3 linked regions of the Homo sapiens genome follow. The protein of the gene in region 3 interacts with the protein of the main gene of each other region in a biochemical or structural test. Each region holds a gene or a part of one and is shown on either strand. Other genes may lie near its edges.

The links. Proteins that work in one complex are often made in the same cells at the same time.
Region 1: the proteins of HDAC1 (region 3) and ZBTB16 form a complex in vitro, tested with the Homo sapiens proteins (5 studies listed by BioGRID).
Region 2: of the proteins of HDAC1 (region 3) and CSNK2A1, one has a biochemical effect on the other in vitro, tested with the Homo sapiens proteins (3 studies listed by BioGRID and IntAct).

Annotation. Positions count from the first base shown.
Region 1 is NC_000011.10:114,250,452-114,258,131, reverse strand, and holds the end of ZBTB16 (zinc finger and BTB domain-containing protein 16), read right to left. Parts: coding exon 7,577-7,680; 3' UTR 1,367-7,576; downstream 1-1,366. UniProt on the Homo sapiens protein: Acts as a transcriptional repressor. Transcriptional repression may be mediated through recruitment of histone deacetylases to target promoters. May play a role in myeloid maturation and in the development and/or maintenance of other differentiated tissues.
Region 2 is NC_000020.11:497,925-507,049, forward strand, and holds part of CSNK2A1 (casein kinase II subunit alpha), read right to left. Parts: intron 7,306-9,125; coding exon 7,194-7,305; intron 2,011-7,193; coding exon 1,909-2,010; intron 1,382-1,908; coding exon 1,331-1,381; intron 1-1,330. UniProt on the Homo sapiens protein: Catalytic subunit of a constitutively active serine/threonine-protein kinase complex that phosphorylates a large number of substrates containing acidic residues C-terminal to the phosphorylated serine or threonine.
Region 3 is NC_000001.11:32,329,082-32,335,250, reverse strand, and holds the end of HDAC1 (histone deacetylase 1), read right to left. Parts: coding exon 6,091-6,169; intron 4,674-6,090; coding exon 4,565-4,673; intron 4,484-4,564; coding exon 4,343-4,483; intron 3,778-4,342; coding exon 3,669-3,777; intron 3,576-3,668; coding exon 3,445-3,575; intron 3,162-3,444; coding exon 3,009-3,161; intron 2,551-3,008; coding exon 2,502-2,550; intron 2,235-2,501; coding exon 2,207-2,234; 3' UTR 1,625-2,206; downstream 1-1,624. Other genes in the region: MARCKSL1 (MARCKS-related protein), read left to right, coding at 154-654. UniProt on the Homo sapiens protein: Histone deacetylase that catalyzes the deacetylation of lysine residues on the N-terminal part of the core histones (H2A, H2B, H3 and H4).

The DNA of each region.
Region 1 (7,680 bases), on a different chromosome or scaffold from region 3:
AGGAGGCTGCCCACAATTGCCAGGGTTGGGGCAGAGGGCAGTGGCAGCCGGGGCTGGCAGGGGGCGGCAGTGGGGCCGCCTGCCCCAGGCAGGGAGGAGAGGGGTTGAGTCAGGCCACGGAGGGAGCATTCTCAGGCTGGCCTGGCCAGGGCCCCTTTCTCTCCATGAGATCATATCTGGGTCAAAGAGCATGTAAAGCTGGCAGAGCTGGCGGTCACACAAAGCCCATTCAGCCCAGCCCCTATTCACTCACCTCCTCTCCCCCAGCGCCCGCGCCGCCGCGACCCCAGCACAGCGCCTAAGCCCCAGCTTTGATGTCCAAGAACAGAAAACGGCGATTAAATGTTGTTTTAAAGAGGGAGTGCTCACTGCCCTCCCATCTGTCAAGAGAAAGCTGAGGCCTGAGGGAGGGGAGGGGAGCTGGGGGAGGGGCGAGGAGGCTGTGTGTGTGTGTCTGTGTGTGTGTGTCGGGGAGTTGGAGTAGAGTGTGGGGGTGAGGAAATAGGCAGGGGCCCAAGAAAAGCCAGGATCAGGACGGCTTGGGGGAATGGTGGCAACTGCTCAAAATCAAAACACAGAATTTGGTTAAGGACTGGTTTCCCAGATGAGAAATATGTGGAGAGGGAAAATAAGGTGGGACAGAGAAACAAAAGCAAAAAGAAAGGAGAAAAGACCACAGATGAGGAAGAGAGGGGAGGAGTGGAAAGGAGAGAAAAAAGATTGGGAGAGAGGAAAAAGATGAGGGGCAGGAGGGGTCAAGAAAGCACAGCAGACGGCAAAGAGGGAGAGGAGAAAGCAAAGACAGAGAAGCAACTTCTAGGGGCTGGAGGCCCCCAGGCTGCACCTGTTCCTCCTCCTGGGAAGATTGTCCGGTGGTAGGGGTAGCTCCAGGCGGTTTCTGCTCAGCAACCCCAGGGTCAGACAGACCCGGGTCTTGGCCCCAGGAGAACAGGGCTGAAAGGTAACCCTCCCAGTGCCACCCCTGGCAGGCCAGGCCTTGTTTGGCTCCCCAGGTGGGTGGCGGTGGCGCGTGGGGTGATGGCTCCCTGCGACTCCTGGTGATGCTGGAGGCCAGGCCTGATGCTCGGTGTGGGTTTACCCTACCGGAGTGACCCAGCACGACAATCATGGCTGTGTCCCCTGGGTCTTGAGGAGGAGAGGGGTTATTTTGGTCAGAGACAGGCAGTGAGGACGGCCTCAGGCAGAGGTGCTGAAGCACCACGTCTAGGATTGAGTGGCTTTGGTTTTACAGCTAAAGATAGGGCGATGCTTCTATCCCCGATAAGAGGAACGGGGAAAGGGCCAGAGAAGAGGGCTTGGCCCAGACACAGGGAGATGAGACAGGGAGGGAATCGTACCCATTGAGTGTTGTGGAAATCCTTTATTCCGTCCATGACAATGCAGAGCTTGCACGGCCACCTCCCACCCATCCCCTCCCCTGCACAAGGCCACCTGCTCCAATCTCCTTTCTTAACAGCTCTTGGCTGCTACAGACGCAGGCAGGGACCTTTGATTGTGTGGAAGCTTCTTGTTGAGAAATTTCTGAAGCTTGCTTAGCCACTAAGGAGTCAGTTGAAAATGTCTCTCTAAAGACTAAAGAAGACGTGAGACCCCTGCTTTGAGAACTCTGGAGTAAAGGAACCTGGCCTGGTATCAGGAGAGGTGGATGGAGTTCTGACTGCTGCTCACCAGCCGTGCAATCCTGAGCAAGTTATCCTAACACAGCCACGGATTCCGACTCAGCGGCCCGCTAGCATGGTAGCCCCAGGGCGGCCAGGGTTTGTCTGTTTGTCCTTTGCTGTAATTCCCAGCGCCGACAACAGTAACTGGTACATGGTGGTCTTGCTGAATAAGTGAACAAGTGCCTACCTAGCACATTGTACCAAGGATCATACGATATTAACGTATTTAACATTTTTTAACTAAAAAGTATTAGAAAAATGTTATTCAGTGCATCTGTGCCTTGTAAATGTGGCATAAAAGTGACACATAGATAAGTCTAAATATGTGTAATACAGAGCTTTCTTTTTCCCAGTCCCCACACAAAAATCTTAATTCCTCTACCATGTTCCCCACACAAGAAAAGGCAAAAAAAACAAAAAAAAAAAACAAAACAAAACCAAGTACTTCAATAAAAAGGTGGGACGCTTCAAGCGAGAGACAACTGAATTAACTTTATTCTCTTCTAACTGCAGATTCAAGGTATACAACTGAACATTGCTATTTTTCTTATGAGACTTATAAATAAAAATACAAAAAATGTTCACTACAAAAAAATCTACTGTTAGTAGGATGTAAAAAATATTCTCTTTGCTATAGAAGGCACAAACTTCACTTAGTGACACATGGAGAGAGAAAAAAACCTGCAGCAGTAAATTCATTTTTTCTTTTTTTTTCCTTTTTTTTTTTTTTTAAATCTTGTCAGAAACACTGAAATTACAAAGAAACGCGTCAATCTACACGAAACGAAGGCAGATGCGGAAAGCTGCAACCAGGACTGCACAACTTCGAGTGAAACTGCTTCGGAACTAGAACAGATAAGGAGCGGCAAGCACAACTCGGGGAAGTGGGCTGGGGAGGGGGCAGCAGGAGGCAGGAGAGAGGGAGAGAGAATGGAGTGGACAGAAATGAGACGGGGAGCCAGAGGGAGGAGGGGAGGGCGGGAGAGGGAGATGGAGAGGGCAAGGGTGAGAGGTGGGGAGGAGAGAAAGAGAGAAAGAGATTGATTTGTACAAAAAAGTAACCAGTAAAATTGAAGAAACAAAATTGGGCAACCTCCTAAAATTAGGCTAAGAGGAGGTGCTGAGGTAGACATTAACTAGAACATTGATGAATTAAAAACACTATTCTGTAATACAGAGCAATCCGACTGGCACTTGTGCTATCACGACATAAGACAAGCCACAAAAACAAACAAATAACAAAACGAAACATAATACCCAAACCAAAAGGCTTAGTTTTGCTTGGTCCAGCAGGGCAGCAGGGCCCTCAGTGCTATAATTTACATACATATATATATATATTTATCTTTATATATACGGGTTGGATGTCATGGTGCACCACCACGGCTTCTTAACCTTACGAAGATCATGCATAACACTATGTGAACAAATCCTATGATACACACCAGGAGGCTGGTACCCTGTCTGCGAAGTTGGATGCCAAGGGCCCGGGGAGGCCGCAGCTGCTGGCTAACCGGCCTGCAGGGCCTGCACCCCTCTTTCTCCCCACCCTTTTCCCCTGACCCAACCTCTCTGGTTTGTCCTGCACCCCTCTCCTGGCCATCTCTGCCTTTTTCCTCTCCCCATCTGTCCCACCGCGTAGGGTGAGTCTCGCCTTTCATCCTCCCACTGAAATATCCAGGTAAGTGCCACCATTACAGCCAAGCCGGCAGAGGCTCCAGGAAGGAGGAGGTATGATGGGAGGGGGAAAGATGACCACAGGATGGGCCTAGGAAAAGTGAATGAACAGAGTCTCATCTTCTGCTTTTCTGTCTCACATCCTGGTGCGCCCCCAGTTTTCACCCTAGCTCGGCTTGCCGGGAAGCAGGCCCAGAAACTACCCTGACCCTGCCAGCCGTCATGGACAGAGTCGAAAGGCTGCCCCACCTCTGCTCTCTCCCCTATAGGGAGGTAAGCTCAATGGCCCTCTTCCATCCACAGCAATTGTACCAATAGCATCCAGAAAGGTACCATACACTTGTGAAAAATTGCAGCAGTTTTTTTTTCTTTTTTTTCTCAACATGGAAAAACTGTTCAGGCACAAAGATTAAACAAGCCCGCGTTGCATCCCTTGGATTGTACTGAATCACTGGGTCCCCCAGCCTCCCTACCTACCCCTGCACCCCAGATCTGCCTTCCCCATATTCATGGCCTCCTCCTCCAAAGCAGCCCAAAGCAGCAATGATATTTACTATTTTATATCAATCTCTTGCTATATATATATATATCTATATATCTATATATTTGTCTATCCTATATATACATAGGATTTTAATGCTTTGAATGAGTGAAGGAGTGAATAGGGAAAGAGCACATGAGGTGTAAATGTCACCAAATGCATTAAGGGACATATTTGTAGGAGCTGGACATGGGAAAGGGACTATTAACCAACGTGGCCTTGCCAGGCTGGAGAAGTTTTTCACTGTGCTGGATAAGGCAGTAGCAAGCAGGGTTGTCAGCAGTACCACAGCTAAAGGCAGCCAGGGGGCCGAAGGAGTCAGGTGGCATGAAGAAGAGGGGAGGACAGATATTCAGATCCCACCTGGGGAGAGACCCCTGTCTACCCTCCTCCTCTCCCCTTAACTCCAGACACATATAAAGCCTCCAGACAGCCTCTTAGCTTGCCCCCTGGCCACTAGGCCGTGCAACATTAGAACTGTTCTGTTGTTGTAGGTAGGAAGTTGGAGAAGAGGCATGTTAGACTCTATTCAGGTGTCTTCATGGGGAGAGGAAGGTACAGTAAGTTCAGAGGTGTCCCCAGACAGTAGCCCTCAGAAACCACACTCCCCTGAGCTCTCCCCATACCTCCCTACTGGGGTCTGCAGGGCCCACGGGGTTGGGTGGGGCATCCAGGTGCTGATTTAGTACCATCCATTGCTGCAACACCAGATTACGACAATACTGCATGATTTAACACACAACCACACACACAAAGCACACGCGCACACGCACATACATGTACAAAGGGATATTTTGGTGGTGGTGGATTTTTTTTTGTCTTTTGTCTTCCTATTCACATTACAAAAGGAAAGGGCAAGGTTCTGCAGAACTGACGAAGGAACTAACAGATACTACAAAAATATTACAATTTGTGAAGATTAGCTCAACCCTCTCAGCTTTTATGAATGGAGCGGGGAGGGGCCCAGGCTGAGTGGGAAGGGCATGGGAGTGAGGGGGCCAGCTAGTTCTATGGAATAGTTTGATTTTTTTCTCTTCCTTCCCCACCAATGTTGAATGACATCTTGCTGTTAAAAATACTGTTTTCTGGGATTTACAGATCCCCTGAGGGCCAGCCAGTCCCCGCTTCTTCCCAGACCAGAGGAGGAAGCCATAGTGCATAATGATTTCTTACAGACGGCCCCTCCCCCAAATGATTTCACCCTTTTCACATTATAAACATGACAACTGTTCTAGTCACGTATTTCAAGTTTAACTTCTTTTCCTTTCCAAAACACTAAGTCGTTACTATAGTTGCAAAATAGCATCCTCCCTACTTTACCATCCCTAATCCACAGTCTAGTGACACCGTCCTCCCAATTCACATCCTCCCAACACACAATTTTAAGGCCTTCAGATTTGGTGGATGAGATTGAAGGGGAGGGCAGGAGGGCTGGGGCCGAGGGACGGGGGGGTCGTCGCAGCAGCACCCATCCCTCCGGCTTCCCTACATTCCTCGTGATCCTTCTCCCCAAAACCGCTTCCCTAAACCACTTTGTAAAACCTAAGATCAAAACGCAGCCACAACTTTCTCAGAGAGAGAAAGGAAAGAAAAAATAATAATAAAAAACTCTTACACATAAAGCATGAGATGAAACGGAGGGTCCGTCCCAAAGCAAACACGAATATTGCAAATGTGCTTTCCAAAATTCAGGAGGGTCGGGGGAGGTTGGGGAAAAGAGGGAGGAAGAGCAGCAGAATGGGAGGCGGGAAAGGAACAAAAGAACAACTGGACAAACATAAGAGGTAGCTTTTAGAAAAACAACACCCCCACCCCAACACAACAAAACAAAGGCTGGATCCCGCCCCCCTCCCCAAAGACCAGCCGTGAAAATAGACCAATTCTGGCAATGAGAATGCACGCACAGAGGTGAGACCACACAGTTGCAAGGATCCAAACACAGGCCCTCAAACCTCAATGGCCCAGCAAATTGTAAGAAAGGTGGGATTCTCTCCAGAGTGTTTTAGGCGGAACGGATGGTGGCCACAGGTGACTTCATGCACCAGCGGAGCCAAAAGTGACTCCCTAGTGCCCTCTGGGGACCATGAGACCCCAAAGCAACATCCCCTCCCCACCCACGCTCTTCGCCCTCCTCGGCCCTCACATTCAGATCCTGAGTATCAACTCCTCCTGCACAGTTCCTGCCAGCTGGGAGGCTGGTCTCCAGGGGCACGGGGAGGGTCTTGACCAGCTGAAGTCTATAAAAACAACTATTAATTTACACAAGAAACAGAAAAGAACACCCTCCCCATTCCTCCAAGCCCCAACCGAAAAAGAGATACAGAGGTTAAGAAAGCTCATGAGGTCACAAAAAACTGAGGTAATTCAAGTACAATGTGCTAACAGGGGACACAGAAAAGAAGCAAAACATAACACAAGGCCAAAGCGCTTTCAAATCCTCCTCCTCCTGCAGCTCCTCCCCCTCCTTCTGCTCCTCCTCCTCCTCCTCTCCACTGTGGACCGAGGGGCGCTGTGAGTCAGGAATTCTGTGCGACTCTCTCTGGACCTGGCTTTTCTTGCTGAGCTCACTACATCTGGGGTCCCCAGTGTGACTCAACAACTTTCTCCCTTGCCCAGCTTCCCTCATCCCACGGGCTGGGTGTCCTCTTTTCCAGGTGTGGGACCCCTCTAGAGAAAGACATCCACAACCTACCCTCGGAACCTCAGCCCATTCATGGATTCCTTCTCCTGGGACTGAAGTAGGGCTACGTAGGGACTGTGGTTTGTTTGGTAGGATATTAGGTATTTAGTTGTGATGCTTTTCCATTTTGGAAGCAGCGCAGCAGGAATCTTGCTCACGATGGTGCTGGACTAGGGTGGGGTATTGGATTTGTTTTGTGTTCTCAGAAGGCTGAGGGTAGGAGGGACCCTGAAGTCAGAGGCAGCTATCCCACTAGGGAACCGGAGAAGGATGGAGACACCGCCAGGTCCCTGAGGGGCTGGGACTCCCCTGGGACTTGGAGGACAGGAGTCAAGGGGAGGCTGGGAACAAAGAGCTGGAGGAGGGGCAGGGGTCCTGAGGCTCTCAGAGACCACCGGGGGACACCCAGATGTGGCAAAGCAGAGGAAAGCAGCAGGTGGGCTGAGTGGTGGGAAGAGAAACAGAGCCCTTCTCCTCCCCAGTCAGCCGCCAGCAAACTAGAGCTGCCATTTTGAGCAGCTAGTGACCCAGCCCAGACCCATCAGCAGGGGAGCGCCCTTCTGGCTCACCTCCTCCCTCCCTTCATCTCCTGGGGGTCTTGGTGGAGGAAGGCCGGCACAGACCGTGTGGCTCTGACCAGAGGACCTCTCACCTGCTTTCTAGCCTCCATTTCTGGACACATAAAAGAAGGTCTGGGTGAAGGAAGGAGAAAAATGTGCCACCATTTGAGTGAACAAAATACCCAACCCCATCCCAGAAAATCAGGCAAACCTCCAGCCGGGAGAGGAGGGTGGAGGCCCCCAGAGGAGGGGCAGTGGCTTGGCATCCAGGTCATCTGGAGCCCAGAGAGAATCCAAGGCCAAAAAGCTACCAGGTTTCCTTTTCCTTCTGTTTTTTTTTTTCTTTTCCTTTTTTATTTGTCATAGTCCTTCCTTCATCTCACTCCAACTCTTCTTTCCTGGCTCCCCGCTCGGCTCCACCGCCGCGGGCCTCCCTTCACACATAGCACAGGTAGAGGTACGTCTTCTCTATCCTCCAGTCGGGCGGGATCTCCTCGGGCTTGTGGCCCTTCATGTGCTTCTGCATGGAGGAGAGGCTGG
Region 2 (9,125 bases), on a different chromosome or scaffold from region 3:
TTACATTAACTTTAAAGAGATACTTTGGGTCTTCAACTCTTAAAAATGAAGAATTACTTAAACATATATTGCGGAAGCTATAATCCACTGTCAGAAACATACTGATCTAGATACGTTAATATGCACTGACACCCACCTATAATTTAGTTTGCTTTTCATGTATCTTCAGACCTTCTCAAAAGAGGCATTTTGGCAAATATACTGCCTCCTTAGTAGGGAACTAACTCATCTTTGCCTTACATAGTTGGCCCTGCAGATCACCAGTGGGTATGCAGATGGCATGATACCAAACCTGTTGAGTCAATTTAACAAAACTATTCTTGTTCCAATTGGAAAGTAAACTCTGAACAACTGTTATGTATCCTTTCCAGTTTCCAAAGAGTTGCAGAATGTTTTTTACATGGACATATCTTTTTTTTTTTTTTTTTTTTTTGAGACAGGGTCCTCACTCTGCTGCCCAGGCTGGAGTGCCGTGCTGCAATCATAACTCACTGCAACCTCAAACTCCTGGGCTCAAGCGATCCTCCTACCTCAGCTTCCCCAGTAGCTAGGACTACAGGCGAAAGCCACCATGCCCAGCCACAGGTACGTCTCTTTAATGGTTAGCAACGTCTTCTGACAAAGTTTTTCTTGAAATTATCATTCTGACTCTAAAGCAGTTCCTCTTCCTTTCTCCCTATCTCTGCAACAGAATTCACTAATTTATTAATATATAACATTCTGGATACTGGACTGGTGGAAAGGCAAATCGAAGATTTTTACTTTTACTCCAAAAGAGTAGCTATATTCTTCTGTAAAATTGGAACTGTGTGAAATAAGTAGGCCACTGGATAGACTGGAATTCTGAGATATCTCTTATAGAGGTTTGTGTTATGGCAGAATTTGACATTATCCTTCCTCGATCCCTGCCTTTTAAGATCTATAGCCCACAGTTTATGAGGAATCCTAAGAAATAAGCAGTCCCTACTTTTATACATACAATATATTTCTTCCTGAACACTATTGTTTAAAGCGAATTGCCATATGGCCAGATCCTAAGTGAACGTGTGTTACTGCCTTCATTAGGTTGGACATCAGCAGAAACTGTCAACTAAGTAGTGAGAAGTCAATGTGTTGGTCATTAAAAAGAACATTAAACAAATGGGCAAAATATCAAGATGCAGAAAGTGGGCACTGCTTATATAGGAGTTCTTCTATCTTAAAATTTGCACTGTAAGGATGAAAAGCTTTTTAAAAACAAATGCGAAGCAAGCTCTTCTAACAGCATCATCCCCAAAGGCTATGTGGTCTAAAAACCCACTAGCCCGAAACAGTTGGTTATATATTATACCTTGAAGTCTGTGTTGTTTACGTGTTCAAAAACCAAGGCGGGGGTTCGTGACTAGGGGAAAAGAACAAAAACAAAAACACACATTAGCAATAGCCCTGACAGCTTTAATGGGGACAATGTTTGCGGATGCTGCGTGGTGAAATTTGGCAGTCCTCGCCTCAGTAGTAAGAAACCCTCTATTGCTACAAGCCCTCCCCGCTCTGATCATCACCGCACTTAGGTCATTTTTGGGATGGATTTCAAACAGAAGACATGGAGCTGAAGTCTCACCAGGCTCTAGGCAGCCCGACAATGCGCCCATCGCCCATCGGCATCGGACCTGAGTTTGCAAAATGGATTAACACATTTCAGTTTCCAGTGCTATCAGTCTCTTAGCCTAGAAGAATAAGAAATAGTCTGTGGGTGGAGGTCTCTTTGAAAGAAAGACCCAAGCTAGTTAAATGGTATATCTGATTAAGCACTTTCAAAGCAGGACTTAATGATGAGGGTTGGGGGAGGGAACAAAAAGAGGCCAGTTGTGCTCCAGGTCAAACACCATCTCAGCTCTGGCGGGCCTTGCTAACACCTACTATACTCACCACAGGGTCTTTTACAATGTCTGCCAGTGTGATGATGTTGGGACCTCCTCTCAAATTCTCCAAAATCTTTATTTCACGCTTAATTTTCTTCTTTTTTACTGGCTGAAAGGGGAAAAGTACATCAGCAAAAAAAAAAAAAAAAAATTTTTTCAGAGTATTTCAACACGTAGTGTAATACATAAATGATAAATGGCTTACTTATGAGCACACCTTGAAGGAAGAAAATGTGTCACATTCGTCTCTGAATCCTTCTCCTAGCACTGTGCCAGGTATTCTGCAGGTACTTACAAATGTTGAATTGAAAGAAAAAAAGATTTCTATTCCAAAGACCAGACACTTCTGCAGAATTAGCATTTCAATCATCAGTCTTGATGTTAATGTTTTAAAACATGTTAAACATGTTAATGTCTTAAAACCTTACAAAGTAGCAATTTAAATCGTTAGTAATACTAAAGTATATCAAACTTTTTATCAATTAGGATGAAACATGGGCCCTTTCCATTTCTTCCTCTAATTAGGGCCAACAACAAGGATGGCCAAAACATCTTTGTGTAGCACAACCCTGAGGGTAAAGGGTGAGTCTTGGAGTCACAATGCCCAATGTGAAACCTACCTTTACTACCTGCTGGCTGTTAATGGCAAACTACATAACCTCTCTAAGCCTTTCATTAAGTGTAAAATGAGTAACAAGAGTACCCATCTCATAAGATTGTTGCAAGAATCAAATGAGGTATTCGAAAGATTTCGGAATATGGCTGAAACATAACATAATAATAACTGTCTAGCCTGATCACCAATGCTCTTTTTTTTTTTTTTTTTTTTTTGAGACAGAGTCTTGCTCTGTCACCCAGGCTGGAGTGCAGTGGTGCAATCTTGGCTCACTGCAACCTCCGCCTCCTGGGTTCACGCCATTCTCTTGCCTCAGCCTCCCGAGTAGCTGGGACTACAGGCACCCGCCACCAGGCCAGGCTAATTTTTGTATTTTTAGTAGAGACGGGGTTTCACCGTGTTAGCCAGGATGGTCTCGATCTCCTGACCTCGTGATCTGCCTGCCTCGGCCTCCCAAAGTGCCAATACTCTTATAAATGAACCCCTCCATTCTAAAGAGTATTCTGCAGAGCATATCTTAAACATTCCTTTGTCCTTACCCATTCTTTCCACATCTGTTCTAGTATGGAATCCTTTTCATTTTTTTCTGAGGAGGGCCTTGGTCCCACTGCACCTCCTTTATAAAGCCTTTTTTTTTTTTTGAGACAGAGTCTTGCTCTGTCGCCCAGGCTGGAGTGTAGTAGCATGATCTCAGCTCACTGCAACTTCCGCCTCCCGGGTTCAAGCAATTCTCCTGCCTCAGCCTCCCGAGTAGCTGGGATTACAGGCGCCAGCCACCATGCCCAGCTAATTTTTGTATTTTTAGTAGAGACAGGGTTTCATCATGTTGGTCAGGATCGTCTCGAACTCCTGACCTCATGATCCGCCTGCCTTGGCCTTCCAAAGTGCTGGGATTATAGGCATGAGCCACTGTGCCTGGGCTTATATTATAAAGCCTTCTCCTGAATAGTCTAAAACAGTGCTGGCCCAAAGGAAATATAATACAAACCACATGTGTAATTTTAAATGTGTTAGTAGCCACATCAAGAAAATTTTAAAAAGGACAAAATTAATGTACTTTATTAATCTAAAATCTTAACATATAAATCAATATAAAAATTATTAATCTATTTTACCTTTTTTTGTATTAAACCCTTGAAATCTAATGTATTTTACTCTTACAGCATATCTCAATTCAGCCCAGCCATATTTCAAGTGCTTAACAGCCTCATGTGGCCTGCGTGCCTGCTGTACTGGACTGTGCAGGTCTTTTCCTAGGGTGTTGGTCACCTCAGACTAGATGCACTGCATATAACTCTTAGAAGTTAAGTACATCTCATCTCTTCATTAACAAGATTGGTGGTTACTAAAGTTTGATGACCAACAATCACCTGGATTTTTTTAATATACAGACTCACAGAACCCACCAAGATTCACTAAATCAAAATCTTGAGAGGGAAACGGGGGATTTATTTTTAGATACTTTCCAGGCTGATGATCCAGGTCCAGAAACTACCAAATAATACTATAAATTCTTTTAACTTTGTCTTAAGCCTCAAGCACATGATAGCAGAAAGCAAGCAGATTTTGGAAACATTGACAGTTCTCAAAACCTGGCTTTGTGGTTGTGCAGTGTTCAGAAAAGCATTTAAATGTTTCTCACTGCTGAAAGGGACTATACTCGCCTGTTAGTGATTTACATACCACAGTTAGAACAGGTCCAATGCAAAGTGGTACCCAATAAACAGAAGCTATTTTACTAATGACTTCCATGTAGTCCATTGAATTCAACCCACGACCTCTTACCCAATACAATATCTACCTAAGAAACAAGATAATATAAGTCTTCTCTTCCTGCTTCAACTATTCAGATCTTTATAAACTGTTATATTATCTGGGAGATCTTTCCACCCTGCAGAGACTAACCCAACAACTTACCTCCTGTTTTCCATTAACCCAACTGCTGGTTTTTTAGTGGAAAAAAAAAGCTTCTGGTTGACAAAACTACTCTACAGAATGCTTCAAATCTATAAACTTAAAAAGCTGGTTTGTGACAGACCAGGCAGCTGACTCAGGCCCGAATTTAATGCGATCAATGCAACTTTTGTCTTATTAAATAGGGGAGATTAAAAATTTTAAATATGGTTTACAAAGGAAATTCATCTATACTTACACCACCTACCCACAGTTACAGTAAAATATACAATACAGTTAGAAAGACTGAGCTGAAAAAAATCTTTCTAAATCACCCTTCATTCAAAATCATCAAGGGCTCACAATTACCTAGAAGAGATAGTCATATAATTTTAAGACTGCAAGGAAATGCAGAGATTATTTTTTCCAGGCCTTCGCCAACTTAATCTCTCTTTCCAAGTTCAACTCCTATGTATGGTCACATAACATCTTTCACATGAAATATTTCTCTCACTTTTCCCTCCTCCTCTTTTCTTATCTTGGTGCACTCTACAGCCTGCTTCCCTTCACCACTTCCACCCAACACCTATCCAAATCCTCCTCCCATTCAGCCTGAAGACAGCTCCTGGGAGCTTTTCCTAACTACTACCCTCTTCTGAACTGTAGACCCACTATGCATGCTTTTCATGTGGCTCTAAATAATAATATATCACCTCATTCTATCATATACCTTTCCATATGAATATCACCATACAATCACAAAGAACTCCAGTCTCCAACGTATGTATATATACACACAATTTTGTGTTTGATCCTTTTTGTTTTTTGAGACAGGGTCTCATTCTCATCGCCCAGGCTGGAGTGCAGTGGTTTGATCATAGATCCGTGCAACCTTCAACTTCCAGGCTCAAGCGATCCTCCCACTTTAGCCCCTCGAGGACCTGCGACTAAAGGCACATGCCACCATGCTCAGCCAACATTCTTTTTAATAGATGGATAAACATGTCCTAGGTTAAAAGGACTACTATGGCTAGTCACCCACATGTTTTGATTTCCAACCTAGTTCTCTTTCTACATATTTCAAGACAGATATAAATACTTAAACTCTCTGGTTCTCAAAGGGCATGTGAAGCACCCCAGCAATGCACAGGAATACTGTGGAACACTTTACATTTTTGAGGAAGACACATCAACCCATCGTTGAATCTGCCAGACACTGGGTGCACTGCCAGCTTGAGGTGGTTCGTAGTTTCAACATTAGATTGTGTTACACTCCTCGTGATGGATTGTGTTATACTCCTCGCGATGGCATATTTTTGTGAAGCTGGGTTTGCAGTAGTTGCTGTGGTAAAAAGCAAGTACTGCACAAAAATCAATGACAGGAAATGAGGGTGGTGGTGTCCAACCAATGACAACATTTGAAAAGCTATGCAGCAACAGGTCTACATAACCCAACAGTAACAAATTATAGTTATATAAGAACAAATTTAACTTTTTTCTTTTAATTTATGTGAATAACTTTTTAAATGGCTACCAAGTTGCTAAGATATAAATACTTAGCGGGCAGGCGCAGTGGCTCACGCCTGTAATCCCAGCACTTTGGGAGGCCGAGGCGGGCGGATCACCTGAGGTCAGGAGTTTGAGACCAGCCTGACCAATATGGTGAAACCCCGTCTCTATTAAAATTACAAAAATTAGCCGGGCATTGCTGGCGTGCATCTGTAGTCCCAGCTACTTGGGAGGCTAAGGCAGGAGAATCGCTTGAACCCAGGAGGCGGAGGTTGCAGTGAGCCGAGATCGCGCCACTGCACTCCAGCCTGGGCGACAGAGCGAGACTCCTTCTCAAAACAAAAACAAAAACAATAAAAAAAACAAAACTTACTTAGCTATTTGGACCTTGCTACTTAATACAGAGAACTATGAGGTATTTCTTGACTTAGGAGTACCGTGAAAAATTAAAGACAGTATAAGTGTTATAAATTGAGAAAGTTTGGAAACTTCTACTTTTCAGTGTCAAATATGAAAAAGTTCCTGTGGTAAGGAACTATATGCTAAGTTCCCAATATATGACAGTGCACAGCATAGTTATAACTAAATTAAAAGTTGTATATTGGTCTCCCAGAGGCCAAATCTGGCCTGTGCATTGTTTTTTTAAAATCTTGAGCCAACACTTAAAAGTCAGGAAAATTCATATACAAATATAAATTTCTGGCTTTTATTTGCAAAACAGAGTATCAAGCAACAATGGACTTGCATTACTGCAGGGCAATCATCAGCTTCAGCTGAGAAGCAGCTAACTCCTTTTGAAGAGGCATGTGTTTCCCAGTTTGTTTCAGTCCCTACCACTCACATCACCTAAGCAAGGGCAATTACACCCGACTAGCTGCACTAATATCATCTGTCTGTCCCCCTCGAGTCCTGTGACTCCTCATCTTTACAAAGTAGAGGCAATGATTTATTTATTGAAAACAAAAGCCTCATTATATAATGAAAAGTAAAGGAAATAAGTATTAGGCAATAACTGGGAGAGAAGAGACTGTACCTTTGCTCCCTTACTCTGCCACAACCTAGCTATATGAGTCAACTCAAATCACTTCTCTTGCTTCAGTTTCCCGATCTGTCAAATAAGCAGAACTTGTTCTATTGAGTTCATAGGATACAATAAAATTTTATTTATTTGCTTTGGCACCAAAAACCTTTTAAATGCTGTTTTAAAAAAGTCTTCAAAACTACTTTTAAAAATCTATATTCCAAATACCTCTGAAATTATCTCTTGTACTCACCTTGAGAATTTTAACAACAACTTTTTCATTATTTGTGATGTTGATGGCTTCAAATACTTCACTGTATTTACCTCGGCCTAATTTTCGAACCAGCTGGTAGTCATCTTGATTTCTGTGGACACAAACAAAATGACTTATAAACGGTCAAATTATCAGCATCAATTCAAATTACAGGAATCTATTACCAGCAGCTGTAATAGAAATAAGAAGTATTTCAAACAATTCCCAAATAGGTTTTTTTTTTTTTTTTTTTTTTTTTGGAGATGGAGTCTCACTCTGTCGCCCAGGCTAGAGTGCAGTGGCGCGATCTCTGCTGACTGCCAGCTCCACCTCCCGGGTTCACACCATTCTCCTGCCTCAGCCTCCCGAGCAGCTGGGACCACAGGCGCCTGCCACCATGCCCGGCTAATTTTTTGAATTTTTAGTAGAGACGGCGGGTCCTCACCGTGTTAACCAGGATGGTCTCGATCTCCTGACCTCGTGATTCGTCCGCCTCGGCCTCCCAAAGTGCTGGGATTACAGGCGTGAGCCACCGCGCCTGGCCCATTGTATTTTTTTTTTTTTTAAATTAGGCCAATTAAAATACGTGTGTTTCAAATCCTAGAATTAGAAAAACTTATACCTTTCAATTATTCTTTCTAATCCCAAACTGTTTACATCTTTATTGGCACATGACATGGAGCTGGCTTGTATTAAGGTTTGTTCTAAATACGTTTGTCTCCAACAAGAGACAGCTTTCCCCAAGAGAATAATTTTTTTTTTTTTTTTTTTTTTTGAGACGGAGTCTTGCTCTGTCGCCCAGGCTGGAGTGCAGTGGCGTGATCTCGGCTCGCTGCAAGCCCCGCCTCCCAGGTTCACGCCATTCTCCTGCCTCAGCCTCCCCTAGTAGCTGGGACTACAGGCGCCCACCACCACGCCCGGCTAATTTTTTTGTATTTTTAGTAAAGACGGGGTTTCACCGTGTTAGCCAGGATGGTCTCGATCTCCTGACCTTGTGATCCGCCCGCCTTGGCCTCCCAAAGTGCTGGGATTACAGGCGTGAGCCACCGCACCCGGCCGGAGAATAATTTTTATATATTCTTGTCCCTTAGTGCTTGGTCCAGTGTTGGCACTTAGCAGGAACTAAAAACATTTTGCAAGACTGTTTCAATCTAGCCACACTTTGGCAGCAGCTGATTTTTAACAGGCCTCTTTGAAGGTAAATGGCTTTCAAATGTATAGGCTTAATCTATTTGCCCTCCAGGGCAAGCTCTGGGGATAGTCCATGCGTAGTACGAAGCACATTATAGATTGTAAACTATAATCAGCGATCCCCTCCTCTACATATACCCATATTCTGTGACCAATAAGCAACATCAGAGGTAATAAACAGAGGTAGAATAAGGGAAATGCCAACATTTTCCTCCTGCCCCTGCCTGCTTCCAATGTAGAGCGCTTTGCTCTGAAGAATGACAAACACAGTTCCAATAAGGCCTAAATTCTATCCTACTGGATAGAATCCTCTGGACCTACTAAGTATCCAATATGAACCAAATCAACCACCTCAACCATTCATTTTCCTCAAGTAGCTAAAAAGAAAGTGAATGAAAAGACAAAAGGTACTAAAAACAATGGACAACATAATAATCATGGCAGGTGTAGGGGAAGAATGCTCCTACTTCTGGTTGAGTTCTCTTCCTATGGGAGGGCATACAAAACAAATGCCAGCAAGCAAACAGAACCATGCCAAAAGCCCAAAAGGGCTCTTTAGTGCCATTTAAGCAGAACCAAGTGCAAAGCACTCAATTTGAAGATAGCGGCTGAAATTCCTATAGTAAACACAGTGTCACCTAGAGTCCAAAGCCTGTGACATAAGAGGAGAATTGTTAGATTATCAGTAATAACAACATTTATTGGTACTAAACCACACTGGCATTTAATGGTGTCTTTACA
Region 3 (6,169 bases):
GTGTTTGACGGGATCCTGGGTGTGGGTGAGGCTGAAGCCAGACTTTCGGGTTGCAGTAGAATCGAATCGAGGACCCCTTCCTCTAGAAGGGATCAGAAGCGGGCTGGGGGAGGGGGAGCCCCTGCCCTCATTGCTATTCCCTCTGCCCTGCAGGAGAATGGCCACGTGAAAAGCAATGGAGACTTATCCCCCAAGGGTGAAGGGGAGTCGCCCCCTGTGAACGGAACAGATGAGGCAGCCGGGGCCACTGGCGATGCCATCGAGCCAGCACCCCCTAGCCAGGGTGCTGAGGCCAAGGGGGAGGTCCCCCCCAAGGAGACCCCCAAGAAGAAGAAGAAATTCTCTTTCAAGAAGCCTTTCAAATTGAGCGGCCTGTCCTTCAAGAGAAATCGGAAGGAGGGTGGGGGTGATTCTTCTGCCTCCTCACCCACAGAGGAAGAGCAGGAGCAGGGGGAGATCGGTGCCTGCAGCGACGAGGGCACTGCTCAGGAAGGGAAGGCCGCAGCCACCCCTGAGAGCCAGGAACCCCAGGCCAAGGGGGCAGAGGCTAGTGCAGCCTCAGAAGAAGAGGCAGGGCCCCAGGCTACAGAGCCATCCACTCCCTCGGGGCCGGAGAGTGGCCCTACACCAGCCAGCGCTGAGCAGAATGAGTAGCTAGGTAGGGGCAGGTGGGTGATCTCTAAGCTGCAAAAACTGTGCTGTCCTTGTGAGGTCACTGCCTGGACCTGGTGCCCTGGCTGCCTTCCTGTGCCCAGAAAGGAAGGGGCTATTGCCTCCTCCCAGCCACGTTCCCTTTCCTCCTCTCCCTCCTGTGGATTCTCCCATCAGCCATCTGGTTCTCCTCTTAAGGCCAGTTGAAGATGGTCCCTTACAGCTTCCCAAGTTAGGTTAGTGATGTGAAATGCTCCTGTCCCTGGCCCTACCTCCTTCCCTGTCCCCACCCCTGCATAAGGCAGTTGTTGGTTTTCTTCCCCAATTCTTTTCCAAGTAGGTTTTGTTTACCCTACTCCCCAAATCCCTGAGCCAGAAGTGGGGTGCTTATACTCCCAAACCTTGAGTGTCCAGCCTTCCCCTGTTGTTTTTAGTCTCTTGTGCTGTGCCTAGTGGCACCTGGGCTGGGGAGGACACTGCCCCGTCTAGGTTTTTATAAATGTCTTACTCAAGTTCAAACCTCCAGCCTGTGAATCAACTGTGTCTCTTTTTTGACTTGGTAAGCAAGTATTAGGCTTTGGGGTGGGGGGAGGTCTGTAATGTGAAACAACTTCTTGTCTTTTTTTCTCCCACTGTTGTAAATAACTTTTAATGGCCAAACCCCAGATTTGTACTTTTTTTTTTTTTCTAACTGCTAAAACCATTCTCTTCCACCTGGTTTTACTGTAACATTTGGAAAAGGAATAAATGTCGTCCCTTTAGTGGTGCTTTAATGAGTGGTCTTCTGGGGGTAGGGTGAGAAGATTGGTGGAAAGTAGTTTACCTCAAACCTCAAGGGAGGAGTTAAGGCAGGCAGGTAAGTTTATGGGGTTTTCTTGTTCAGGGGGTTGCCCCAATACTCATGGACACCAGAACGGCAGGGAAGTAGAGTTGAAACCAACCCAGGGACACATAGGAAACAAGCTCAGGAGGATATAGAAATGTACCATTTTATTACAAAGAGGCTCACAAAAATGAAAATAGTATCTCAAAAAGGAAACTAGACTAGCAACCTCCACCTGCAGAATTAGGAGAAGACAGACAGAGGGCAGGCAGTGTTTCTTGGCTCACTTGAGGCCAGTGGGAAGGTACGAAAACAGAACCAATCTAAAAATGGCTGATGTTACTTTAGGAGCCTGAAAAAAACAGGAGATCCTTGAAGACCCAGCCACCCCTTCTAGAATGTTCAATAAGGGCACCTTTCCAAAGCTACTAAGCAGGCACTTGGCATTTCAGGAGTTTGTCTTATGGTTGCATAAAAGTATCCCTTTCACCCAGACCTGGCACCCTTTATGGTTCAAAGTTAAGAACGGGAAGAATGGGTGGCAAGGTGGCTCCTGGAAGAGCTCACCCAGCACAGCTGCCCTGAGCTCGGGGCCTTGGTTTCTGTCCCTGGGGATATTTATATTTAATAAATTTTTATATAAATACACAGAGAAATAGAAAATATAAAATCTGAGGGGTTGGGGAAGAAACGTGAGGGACTCAGCAGGAAGCCAGAGCTGGAGAGGTCCATTCAGGCCAACTTGACCTCCTCCTTGACCCTGTGGAGAGAGCAGAGACTGGCATGAGATGACCCAGCCCAGAGCCTCAGGGCAAAAGTGCAGACAGTGACTTCCACAGGATCCTAGGTGACTACTGGGGGCTGGGGCTCCTAGCTCTGCCTAGAACTGCAGAGCTGGACAGACTGGTCCCTGAAAGAGGCCTTTGTAAGCTGGACCAGCTGTCCCTGTGCCTTTCCTCAGAGTGGTGGGACAAAGGGGCTGGTGCTCCAATGCCAGGGAGATGGCCACAGGCAGCTCCTTCCTCACCCTTTGGCTTCTGGCTTCTCCTCCTTGGTTTTCTCCTCTTCGGTGACTTCTAGAACACAAGAGTACAGGGATGGCCAAGGGCAGCACCTCTGGGAAGACCCATGAGGTCTTCATTTACCCTGAGACCCCTTCCCCAACACTACAGCTCACTGGACATAAAGAGAGAAAAGCCCATCCCTGGTCCTCCCAGTGAGCCCTGTTGAGAACAGGTTGGACTGGTTTCCCAGCCTGCTACAGCCAGAACCTGGTGGGCGGAGGCAGCCCCCTGGGAAACTGGGGTGCAGTGCTGGGAAAAGGGCTGGGGTGGTATGTGAGAGCCGTGCTCAGGCAGTAGAGGTTCATTGTTTTGTGGGCTCTGCCACTTCTGGGAGCCACTGAAAGGCTCAAGGAACTGAGGAAGAGCCCCACAGGAGCTGGCAGGGCCTGAGTCACTCCCTCCTCCCACTGCCCTACATAGATTCATCCTCTCAGGCTCGAGACCCAAGTCCCAGCTGAACCCAAACCCACCTTTCTTCTCCTCTGGGTCTTTCTCTTTTTCATCCTCTGTTTTGACTCTCTTGGCTTTTTTGAAGTTGGAAGAGTTCTTGCGGCCCCCCTCTCCCTCCTCTTCAGAATCGGAGAACTCTTCCTCACAGGCAATTCGTTTGTCAGAGGAGCAGACTGGGAGGGAGTGGGAAGCATGGGTGAGAGGGCAGGCGGGTGCTGATTTAGCTCAGCATCTATGCCCAGTGCTTCCCTGCGTGTCCTCCAAGAGACACCAAGGGAAAGGGAACCAGAAGAGGGAGGAACTCGGGCTCCCTAACCTGTTCCTACAGGCACTGGAACTCGAAAACAGATTTCTCTACAGGTGGGGAGCTTGGAGGGAGTGTGCAGCCAGGAATGGTGGTGGAAGTGTGAGCTGCCTATTGAATGGAAGGCATAGGGCTCTAGGTCTGGGTCTCACTCGAGATGCGCTTGTCAGGGTCGTCTTCGTCCTCATCGCCACTCTCCTCAGGGATGGCGTCCTCAGGAATCGCCTGCATTTGGACCCCAGGTGCGTGCGGCAGCATTCTAAGGTTCTCAAACAGTCGCTGTCTGTGGCCAATGGGAGAGAGTAGCAGGGCTCTGGTCAGGGACAAACCAAAGTCAGGAATGTTCAACCAAGGGGTGGCTGGAGGATATACTCACTTGATCTTCTCCAGGTACTCATTCGTGTTCTGGTTAGTCATATTGGAAGGACTGATGTGGAGCTTGAAATCTGGTCCAAAGTATTCAAAGTAGTCATTGTATGGAAGCTCTGATTGGGGCAGGAGAGAAGACCGTCAAGAGACCTGGCCACCGCACCCTAACCATTTGCACGTAAGCACCCTAAAGCATTTGTAGGTTTCTCTGGGCCTATTTATCCAAACAGAGGAGAATGCCTCCAAGACACTGTGAGACACGGGTACCTATGGGATTTCCATCTTTTTAACATCACTCTCCTATGTCTGTACCAGTGGTGTATATGTCGCTAGGAGAAGGCCCATGTCCCTGGTTTAGGACACTTGAGGCCATGCTCATTATGAGCGCTCCCTTCACTCGCTACTCCAGTTACTCTACAGAGTAGAAATTCCAAAGCTGTAAATTACCAATGAGAACTTTGTCCAGACCAAAAGCAGGAGGGAGAGGGGAGAGAGCTAAAAAGGACTAGGGAAAAAGTGATGGTTATGGTCTGCTGATCACAAGAGGACAGGCAGGAGACTCAGTGACTAGTATCAGAAGAGGAGCGGTCATATGACCAACGGGGAAGGGGTTATAAACTTAAGGACAGATGAGCTCCAGCTCCCACCCAGCCCAGCCGAACCTGGCCCTGCAGCTATTACCATTAGGGATCTCCGTATCCAGGGCCACAGCTGTCTCATATGTCCAGCACCGGGCAACGTTACGAATGGTGTAACCACCGCCTCCCAGCATCAGCATAGGCAGGTTAAAGCTCTTGACAAATTCCACACACTTGGCGTGTCCTTTGGTGGGAGAAGGGGTGCTGAGTTACAGGAGCACCAAGCAGGACCCCGCCCACCCATCCTTGTGCTACCTGGTCTCACCTTTGATAGTTAGATTGAAGCAACCTAACCGATCCCCAGATAGGGAGTCTGAGCCACACTGTAAGACCACCGCACTAGGCTGGAACATCTCCATTACTTTGGACATGACCTAAAATGATACATCCTGGTCACCACCAACCTCAAGAAAGCAATACGAGGTTTGGAGTGGAAAGGCTGGGTGCAACACTTTCCCACCCACTCCTACCTTTCCACTCTCCCTCATGCTATGTGGGAGAGAAAAGGGAGTGCTAGGCTGGAGCCCTTGCTTGCCCACTTGGGATTTCAATTTTCCAATTTAAAAAGTTCTCTAAGACCCTTCTAACACTCTAGTAACACTGAACCTAGAATGGCCTCCCTCTCAACTCCCTAAGTCTCTTCTGTTGCCCAAGCTCTAGTGCCACTTCCTCCAGGAAGCCTTCCTGACCTTTAGCTGCATCTACTCTACTCATTCGGTCTTACAGACTTGAAGCCTTACATTATGAGCAAGCACTTTTAGTTTATCTTATTCTCACAAGCAGAGTCTAACGTTACTGAGACCGAGACCACAACTCCCACTTCTGTAGCCCTTATTAAATACTAGGCACATAGTGGGCAGTCAGTGTTTGCTGAATGACTACCTGACCTTATTAGGTTAAGCAGTTTCTTACTGTTTATAAGTGAAGATTTAACTCCTTGGCATGGCATTCAAGGCTCCCTTTGAAATACTGAGCCCAGCATACACTTCCCACCGCCTCCTTCAGCACTCCTCCCATACACCACACTGGCCTACATGCTGCCACACTGGCACCTCTGCACTTCTGCTAGTGCCATTCCTTCTACTAAATGCCACCCTTACTGCCATCACCTCCTTCTTCACATGGGCACCTCCTCATTTTCCAAAGTCCAGCTTAAACATCAGCACCTCTGTGAAATCATCCCTGGCTACCCTCCTGCCAGCCCAGGCAGTAGTTTGTCTCTCATTCCTCTGATCATCCCTCAAAAACACAGGCACTAGGCCAGCCTACCCATGGAACATGCCACACAGCCTTTCCAGAATCTCTGGATGGGCTGACTGGCAAAGGGCTTTCCCAGACAAAGCCAGTCTGCAAAGACTGGAGTAAGTCCCTACTTCTTCTAATGTGCAGACATCAATGTAAGGCAATGAGGAACACAAAAAACCAAGGAGACATACCACTACCAAAAGAACACAATAATCTCCCAGCAGCCCAAAGAAATGGAGATACAAAAACAGTACTAATCATAGACTACTGGGTATGTGCCTGCCTTCCCCACCATAGTCCGTGAGGGCAAAGATCATGTCTTAGATATTTTTGTATCCAGCAGAAGACCTGACCCATAGAAGGAACCAATAAATATGGGTGTTTGTTCCCCTAACTGACCACACAGCAATCCAGGGTTCAAACACTTCTATCTCCCCACCAGCTTTAGTAAGGAGAGATTCCTGAGGTATGGTGGGGGTGCTTTGCTCCCCTCCACCGCCAACCAATCCCCTGTTTGTAGCCCAAGGGGTGGATAAAGCCACTTACCGGCTTGAAAATGGCCTCATAGGACTCGTCATCAATCCCGTCTCGGAGCGGGTAGTTAACAGCATAATACTTGCCTTTG